Homo sapiens: one gene and its partner. The protein of the gene in region 2 purifies or fractionates together with the protein of the main gene of each other region. This does not show direct contact. Each region holds a gene or a part of one and is shown on either strand. Other genes may lie near its edges. The genes, in order: HERC3 and RCBTB1.

What was found.
Region 1: the proteins of RCBTB1 (region 2) and HERC3 purify together in Homo sapiens (affinity purification with mass spectrometry, with the first as the bait; one large-scale study listed by BioGRID). This does not show direct contact.

Annotation. Positions count from the first base shown.
Region 1 is NC_000004.12:88,700,244-88,704,066, reverse strand, and holds part of HERC3 (probable E3 ubiquitin-protein ligase HERC3), read right to left. Parts: intron 1-3,823. UniProt on the Homo sapiens protein: E3 ubiquitin-protein ligase which accepts ubiquitin from an E2 ubiquitin-conjugating enzyme in the form of a thioester and then directly transfers the ubiquitin to targeted substrates.
Region 2 is NC_000013.11:49,578,870-49,582,692, forward strand, and holds part of RCBTB1 (RCC1 and BTB domain-containing protein 1), read right to left. Parts: intron 1,716-3,823; 5' UTR 1,636-1,715; intron 1-1,635. UniProt on the Homo sapiens protein: May be involved in cell cycle regulation by chromatin remodeling.

The DNA of each region.
Region 1 (3,823 bases), on a different chromosome or scaffold from region 2:
TCAAAGTCTTGTAAAGCTTATGAAGTTACCCTTCTACACTGAGATTGGGAGTGATAAAAAATAGAATTTCATCAAATTCTCAAATCAGGAGGCATCCTAAGGCATCATATAGGTTACCAGCTCTCCTCTCCTCCCTCTCCATCCCCAGCCCTAACATTCCACCAAGTGCCTCAGGTGATCCAAGGCAGGATAAGCCAGATAGGAAGGGCAGCAGGCCAGGTATATAGAACTAAACTACTGGCTTTACCTGAGGTATTCCAGTTTTCATGTTAAAAGCCCTGCTTAAAATTTAGTGTGGAAAAAATAATAAGACCTTTTCTGCTTAAAATAAAAAGTCTAGGATAACAGTTCTAGGCCATTTTCCTCAGAAACAAATAAAGCTAAACCACTTGATACTTGTATCCTCACCTGTTTTAAAAGGTTCATTTTATAACTCCTTGTTTATAAAACCTTTACCTCTGGGAAGAACCATCTCAAATAAAGGCTCCATCTCACTAATAATCAGGCAAATGCAAATGAAGACGAGTGAATTGTCATTTGCACTCATCAGACTGGCCTAAGTTTAAAAATGAGATTATATCAATATGGTGAAGGTGTGGGGAAAACAGAAACCTCATAGGCAGTTGGTAGGAAGATAAACTGAAATGATGGGAACCATATCGCAACCATGGAAATATATAAAGATCAACCAAATGAGAAGAGCAAAGGCTATTTTTTCAGAGCTGCTATAGCAAGAGAGTCAGCCACTGTCACTTGTGTTGTGGCAGAGACTCAAAATCAAGCAGAGGAGTGGAAAAGCTTTACAGTGGAAAGAGGGAAGGCTTCAGGTACACTCTGATTGGAGGCTGCTAGTCTGGGGAAGCTGCAGGTGGGCTAACTAGAAGTGGGGCATCCTATGTGACTGGTTAAGGGTGTGTATTTGGCTTTCTCTGGTTGGCCCTAAGTTGGAAGTAGGAACAAAAATTAGGGAAGCTGCTGATTATTAATCACATCCTGGCCTATTTGGGCCCACTGTTACAGAAGTTATCGAGACAGATGGCAATCAGGCTGCCTGCAAGTCTGACTTATAGCAGGCTGGCTTCCTGGGCTGCTTATTGCAGATAAGAGGTTGGTTTCCCGGGCAGGTTGCTGCAGATTGTGGGTCTCAGCTCCATGTTTATTTATATATGGCCTGGCCATTGTCCATAGGAATATTCAGTCTCTCACAAGTGGAAATATAAACTGTGAACCTAGACATAAACATTTTGGGGGGAAATTCTGTCAATATCTAGATAAGTTGAAAATGTAAATACCCTTGACCATGCCACTGTGCTAGCGGGTAGGTAATGCAGAGACGCTAACATGTGTGCACAAGAAGATGAGTGCAGGCAAGTTTACTGCAGCATTTTCTTGCAATATAGAGAATTTAGAGAAACAACACTAAACATCCATTAATATGAACATGGACAAGGAAAAGATGGTAGAGTCATATGATGGAAACCATAAAGCAGAGCACTTTGATGGAATTAACTAGATCTAAACTTAGCAAAATGAATAGAATCTCAAGAACAATGCTGAGTGAAAATCAAGTATTTGCATGTTCAGTAAAATATGATGGCATTTATGTAAGTTGTGTTTTAACACTTAAAACAATGCTACTTATAAAAGGTAGTAGCTCTGTCACTCAGAGCTTGTGACCCTTGGGCAAGTTATTTAACTTCTCCATGCCTGTGTCCTCATTTGTAAAATGGGGGAGAGTAAGAGTAGATAACACATGGGACTGCTTTAGGATTAAATGAGTGAATACATGTAAGAGTGCTTAAACCAAGGCTGGTGTATAACAATTACTTTGTAAGTATTAACTAGTATTATCATATTGTTTATGGATATGAGATTTTGCTTATGAGTATGAAATTATAAATATGATGCATACATAAGATGTGTAAGTGTTCATTTTTAAAAACAAAGACATTAATGTAAAAAGATCTTTGTCTAGCCAGGTGCAGTGGCTCATGCCTATAATCCCAGCACTTTGGGAGGCTGAGGCAGGCAGATGGCTTCAGCCCAGAATTCAAAACCAGCCTGGGCAACATGGCAAGACCCAGTCTCCACAAAAAATTAGCCAGGCCTGGTGGTGCATGCCTGTAGTCCCAGCTGCTCAGAAGGCTGAGGTGGGAGAATCACCTGAGCCCAGGAGGTCAAGGCTGCAGTGAGCCATGATCACGCCACTGTACTTCAGCCCGGGTGACAAAGCAAGACCCTATCTCAAAAAAAAAAAAAAAAATCTGTTTTAACATACATGTTTATTATAAAAAGTATAAAAACATAAAAAAAACATATCAAATTCATAAGAGTTTTGTCTGTGTAAGAAAGAAGGGCGGGAAGAGGGGAATGGAATTAAGGGTATGTACAACAGTATCAGTAATTTGGAATTAAGGGTATGTACAGCGGTATCAGTAATTTTTTTCTTTTATTAAAAAATCTGAAGCAAATACCTGTTGACTGTGGATCATATATACAAATGTTTGTCACATTAACTTTTTGTATTTTAGATTAAAAACAATTTTAAAACTTCACATCATGAAGATAGTTATTTACTACTTATCCATCACTGTAATTTAATACTTCATAAAGCTACATTTGAATTATTGGGTTTCCTCCAAGCAGATAGTTTTTACATGTTCACCATCCACACCAATAACTAGCCAACAAATGGTGTAATACAGTGGATAAGTGAGGCAGACAGGGGTTCAAATCCAGGCTCTGCCATCTTCTGTATCTAACTAGTAAGCCTCCCTTTTCCCATTTTTAAAATGGTATAACTGTGCAATCTTTAAAATAAAGCCACTAATGTAAAAAGATTATTGTGCATGTTAATCATTGATGCTGAAAGTTTCTCACACCGTATATAACACCTCACTTCTCTGAAACCCATGACACTAAACTAATGACATTTTTCTGATACAATTACCCAAGAGAAACACCATCACAACAATTTTTATTACAGACTGTGATGGTTAATTTTATAGGTCAACTTGGCTAGGCTATGGCATCCAGTTGTTTGGTCAAACACCAGTCTGGATGTTGTTAAGATATTTTTTTAGTTGGGATGAACATTTAAATTCATTGACTTTGAGTAAAGCAGGTTACCCTCCATAATGTGGGTAGGCCATATCCAATCAGCTGAAGGCCTTAAGAGAAAAAGACTTGAGGTCCTCCAAAGAGGAAAGAATTCTCCCTCCAGACTGTCTTTGGACTCAAGATTTAAATATTAACTATTGCCAGAATTTCTAGCCTTACAGCCTACCCTGCAGATTTCGGGTTTGACAGCCCCCACAATCACATGAACCAATTCTTTAAAATAAATCCCTCCTTGCCCCCACCCCCCTCGGCTTCACACCCTGTTGGTTCTGTTTCTCTGGAGAACACTGACATATAGATTTCGGTACTAAGAAGTACAGTACTACAACAGCAAATACCTAAAAACGCAGATGTGCCTTTGAAATGAGGAAATAGGTAGAGCCTGAAAGAGTTTTGAGGAGCTTGATAGAAAAACCTAGATTTCACTTAAGGGACTATTGGTAGAAATAGCTCAACAGTCTCAGGAAGCAGCCTGAGACTCTCACCATCTACATGCCCAATCTTGAACCTTTTAGCTAGCAGCCTCCGGTCTTCCTTTTTAGCAACACTAAACAGATTAAAGCCACTTTGGGAAACAGTGTGGCAGCTTCTTATGAAGTTAAGCGTACATTTACTGTATGACCCAGCAATCCCACTGCTAGGTGTCTACCCAAGAGAAATAAAAGTCCATGCTCATAGAGAAACCTGTAGATGAATGATCACA
Region 2 (3,823 bases):
ATGACAATCTTTATTTCTGAATCCATTTAATTCCAGAAAAACATTCAAATAAGAGAGCTCTACGGTTTGGGGTAAACTTTGGTATACAACATTACAACTTAATGTCTTCCATCTATGCTACAGCAAAAGCAATTCAAAAACCCTCTCAAGGTACAAACAGCCAAATGTTACTCTTACCAATTTCTTACATATAATTCTGATGGGCTTTTTGAGACTGAGCAAATGCTGTCTCATTGAGATACCAAATGTATTTCCCAGGTCCAGATAAGCCTCTAAGAATCAGCCTCAAACATTTTTAAATAAAAATAAAACTTAAAACCATTTCACCCACTCTATGGTATAAGGGCTGCAAATCACAGGCAAAGTTTCGAAGATGTGCTGAGACACTAATATGTTATTGCCCCAGCTGCTAGAACAGCTGTCATCCACGTCTCTCTTCTGCAAACACACAGTACTACAAGAATGAAAGGGAGGCCGGGCGTGGTGGCTCACACCTGTAATCCCAGCACTTTGGGAGGCCGAGGCAGGCGGATCACGAGGTCAGGAGATCAAGACCATCCTGGCTAACACAGCGAAACCCCGTCTCTACTAAAAATACAAAAAAATTAGCCGGGCCTGGTAGTGGGCGCCTGTAGTCCCAGCTACTCTGGAGGCTGAGGCAGGAGAATGGCGTGAGCCCAGGAGGCACAGCTTGCAGTGAACCGAGATGGTGCCACTGCACTCCAGTTTGGGTGACAGATCGAGACTTGTCTCAGAAAAAAAAAAAAAAAGAATGAAAGGGAAAGGAAGAATGCCCTGAATGCTTGACTAAGGAGTCTGAGAATGTAGCCTTCTCCCAAAGTAGTTTGTCATCCTTCAAGCTGAAGCCACCTGTACAGGTGAGTGAAGATAATACCCCCACCTTCATTTAGAGAACAGTATGACTAGTGTTTTAGAATTCTCTGATTGTGCCTACCCTTTGTTTCATAAGTTTTGTTCAAATTCATCACTAATTTTAGAGGAAAATGTAAGTTCCTACAACTGTCATTTCCCAACCACTAATAAGTTATTTGACTTGAAGCACAATTTGCAATAATGGCCTCTGTAAGCATTTCTTTAGCCCCATCATCCAAGGGGCTGCTTTCATCTCATTCATTTCATCTCGTCTCACTTCTAACCTCAGCCATGTGCTCGAAAAGCAAACGAACCAAGTGGCAATAGCATTAGCAGTGAAAAAAATAACATATCTAGGGTTGTGCAGCTGACTGAGATCTTATAAAAGTATTGCTTTTATAGGATACTGTTGTTTTCAAAAGGAAACCAGAAAAGAAATATCGATGATTAGAAATAATGTTTTTTCTGTAAGTTTGTTCTTTGTTAAACCAAACAAACAGGTGTCACAAAACAGAACAAAAAAACCAATGATGGGTCAAAGTTTAAAGAAATGGATAGATGGCTGGGTGAAGTGGCTCACACCTGTAATCCCAGCATTTTAGGAGGCGAAGGCAGGAGGATCACTTGAACCCAGGAGTTCAAGACCAGCCTGGGCAACATGGCGAGACTCCATTTCCTTAAAAATAAAAAGATTAGCCAGTCATAATGGTGTGCGCCTGTAGTTAGTCCCAGCTACTCAAGAGGCTGAGGTGGGAGGATCACCTGAGTCCAGGAGGTTGAGGCTGCAGTGAGCCGTGTTCACACCACTGTATTCCAGTCTGGGCAAGAGAGCAAGATCCTGTCTGAAAAAGAAAAAAGAAATGGATAAAACATAATACTTCATTTTATTTTCCAAATGAATTCAAGGCTGGAATTGGTGGGTCAAATTCAAATCTAAATATGGTTTCATGAATCTTTCTCATGTGGATACCCCAAAAGTGATTTCATCTATTAGTCCCCAGTTGTATGAAAAGTATCAACTGTACCCTGCAATGACCTAAAGCCAAACTGAAATTCCAGCAATGGACTGGCAGAACCATACACTATTAATTCAATAAATTTTCTTAGGTAAACAGGACACAGAGCCAACACCAACAGAAATTACATGGGGTTGGGGGATCTAGACACATAAACAGATGCTCACAACAGTGTGGCTGGTCAGATGCTGTGGAGGCAACAGAATTGGGAAGTATGCTTCAGCTACCTAAAGAGAAGCAGGCGCCTGCAACAGTGAGCACTCATGCCAGGTAAGGCTCTGGTGGAGGAACTGAAAGAAAGTCAGCATGGCTGCAGCCAAACAACTCAGGCTTTATCCTAAGAGCACCAGGTAATCCCTGAAGGGTCTTAAGCAGGGAAGTGGCATAAACAGATGTAGGTCTATGAAAGATTACTTTGGCTGACCACAGAGACATGAGACGACAAAGGAGTGCTTAGAGGAAGTCCAGATGGCTATGGTAAGCCAGAAAAGAAGGGATTGAAGCCCACACTAGGGAAATGGAGAAAATTGAACAAGAAGGAAAATCAAGAAGATTCTGCAACTGGCTGAATGGGACAAGGAGCACTGGATAAGCAGAAAGGCAGAGCCGAAGATCACAGGCAGACGCTGAGCTTGAGTGAGAGAGAACTGTGCTGCCACTCACTACAGCAGAAAGCACAGCAGGCCTCAGGGGTGATGAGTCCTACTATGGACATTTGTGCCAGGTACCTGTGGGATATTAAAGTGGACAAGTCCCAACAGATGGATTTAGAAATCTGAAGCTCAAGAAAGGTCTGGATTGGAGATTTGGAAATCTGGCATGAAATCACCCAGGAAAAAAGCAAGTGAAATAAGGAGAGCAGAGTACCTTAAGAAGAACTCTAAGAAACTCCAACGGGAAAGGGACAGGGAGTACCCCCTAGAAGGGACTGTGAAGGAAGAGGTAGACCAGGAGGAAAACCAGGAGACAGAGTGTCACAGAGATCTGGGGACTTGAGCATCACAGGCAAGAGGCATGCTAGTGTCGAATGCTGCTGAGACACCAAACGAGGGAAGGGTGGAGAAACTTCCATTGGATTTAACAAGGAGAATTATCAGTGACCTTAACAAGAACAGTTTCACTGAGGTTGTGGGTGGAAGAGGCCAGGTTGCAGCAGGTTGAGGCGTATGTGAAAGGTGAAGAAAAGGAAACCATGAGTATAAACAACTTGTTCAAGAAATTTCACTCTGAAGGAAAAATGAGAAATCGCATAGTAATCACAGAATGTGATAGAGTTGCAGGACGTTTTCTGTTAACCTTTTTAATGTAAACATTGTTAGAGGCTTGAACATGTTTGAATTAATGGGAAGGAGCCAGTAGAAACATCAAAGAGGAGAGGATGTAACAACTCAATGGGCCTTAAGAAAGTAGCAGGGAATGGGATCTGAAGCAGAAGTGCAACAGAAGCGCCGGGCGCAGTGGCTCATGCCTGTAATCCCAGCACTTTGGGAGGCCGAGGCAGGTGGATCATCTGATGTCAGGAGTTCGAGACCGGCCTGGCCAACATGGTGAAACCCCATCTCTATTAAAAATACAAAAATTAGCTGGGCATAGTGGTGGGTGCCTGTAATCGCAGCTACTCAGGACCCTGAGGCAGGAGAATCGCTTGAACTCGGGAGACGGAGGTTGCAGTGAGCCAAGATCACACCACTGCACTCCAGCCTGGGCAACAAAAGCAAAATTCTGTCTCTAAATAAATAAATAAATAAATAAATGCAAGAGAAACTGTAGAAAGGAGCAAGTCTTCCTTTTCTTCCTTCCACAAGAGGAGGAGGAAAGGGTGAATGTGAATGAAAGCCAGTTTAAAGGTTAGGAATCCAGATGCTGGAGACATACTCATTCTCTCATTCTCATTCTCTCTCCCCGCTGAGTCTCCATTTTACATGCCCACCGGC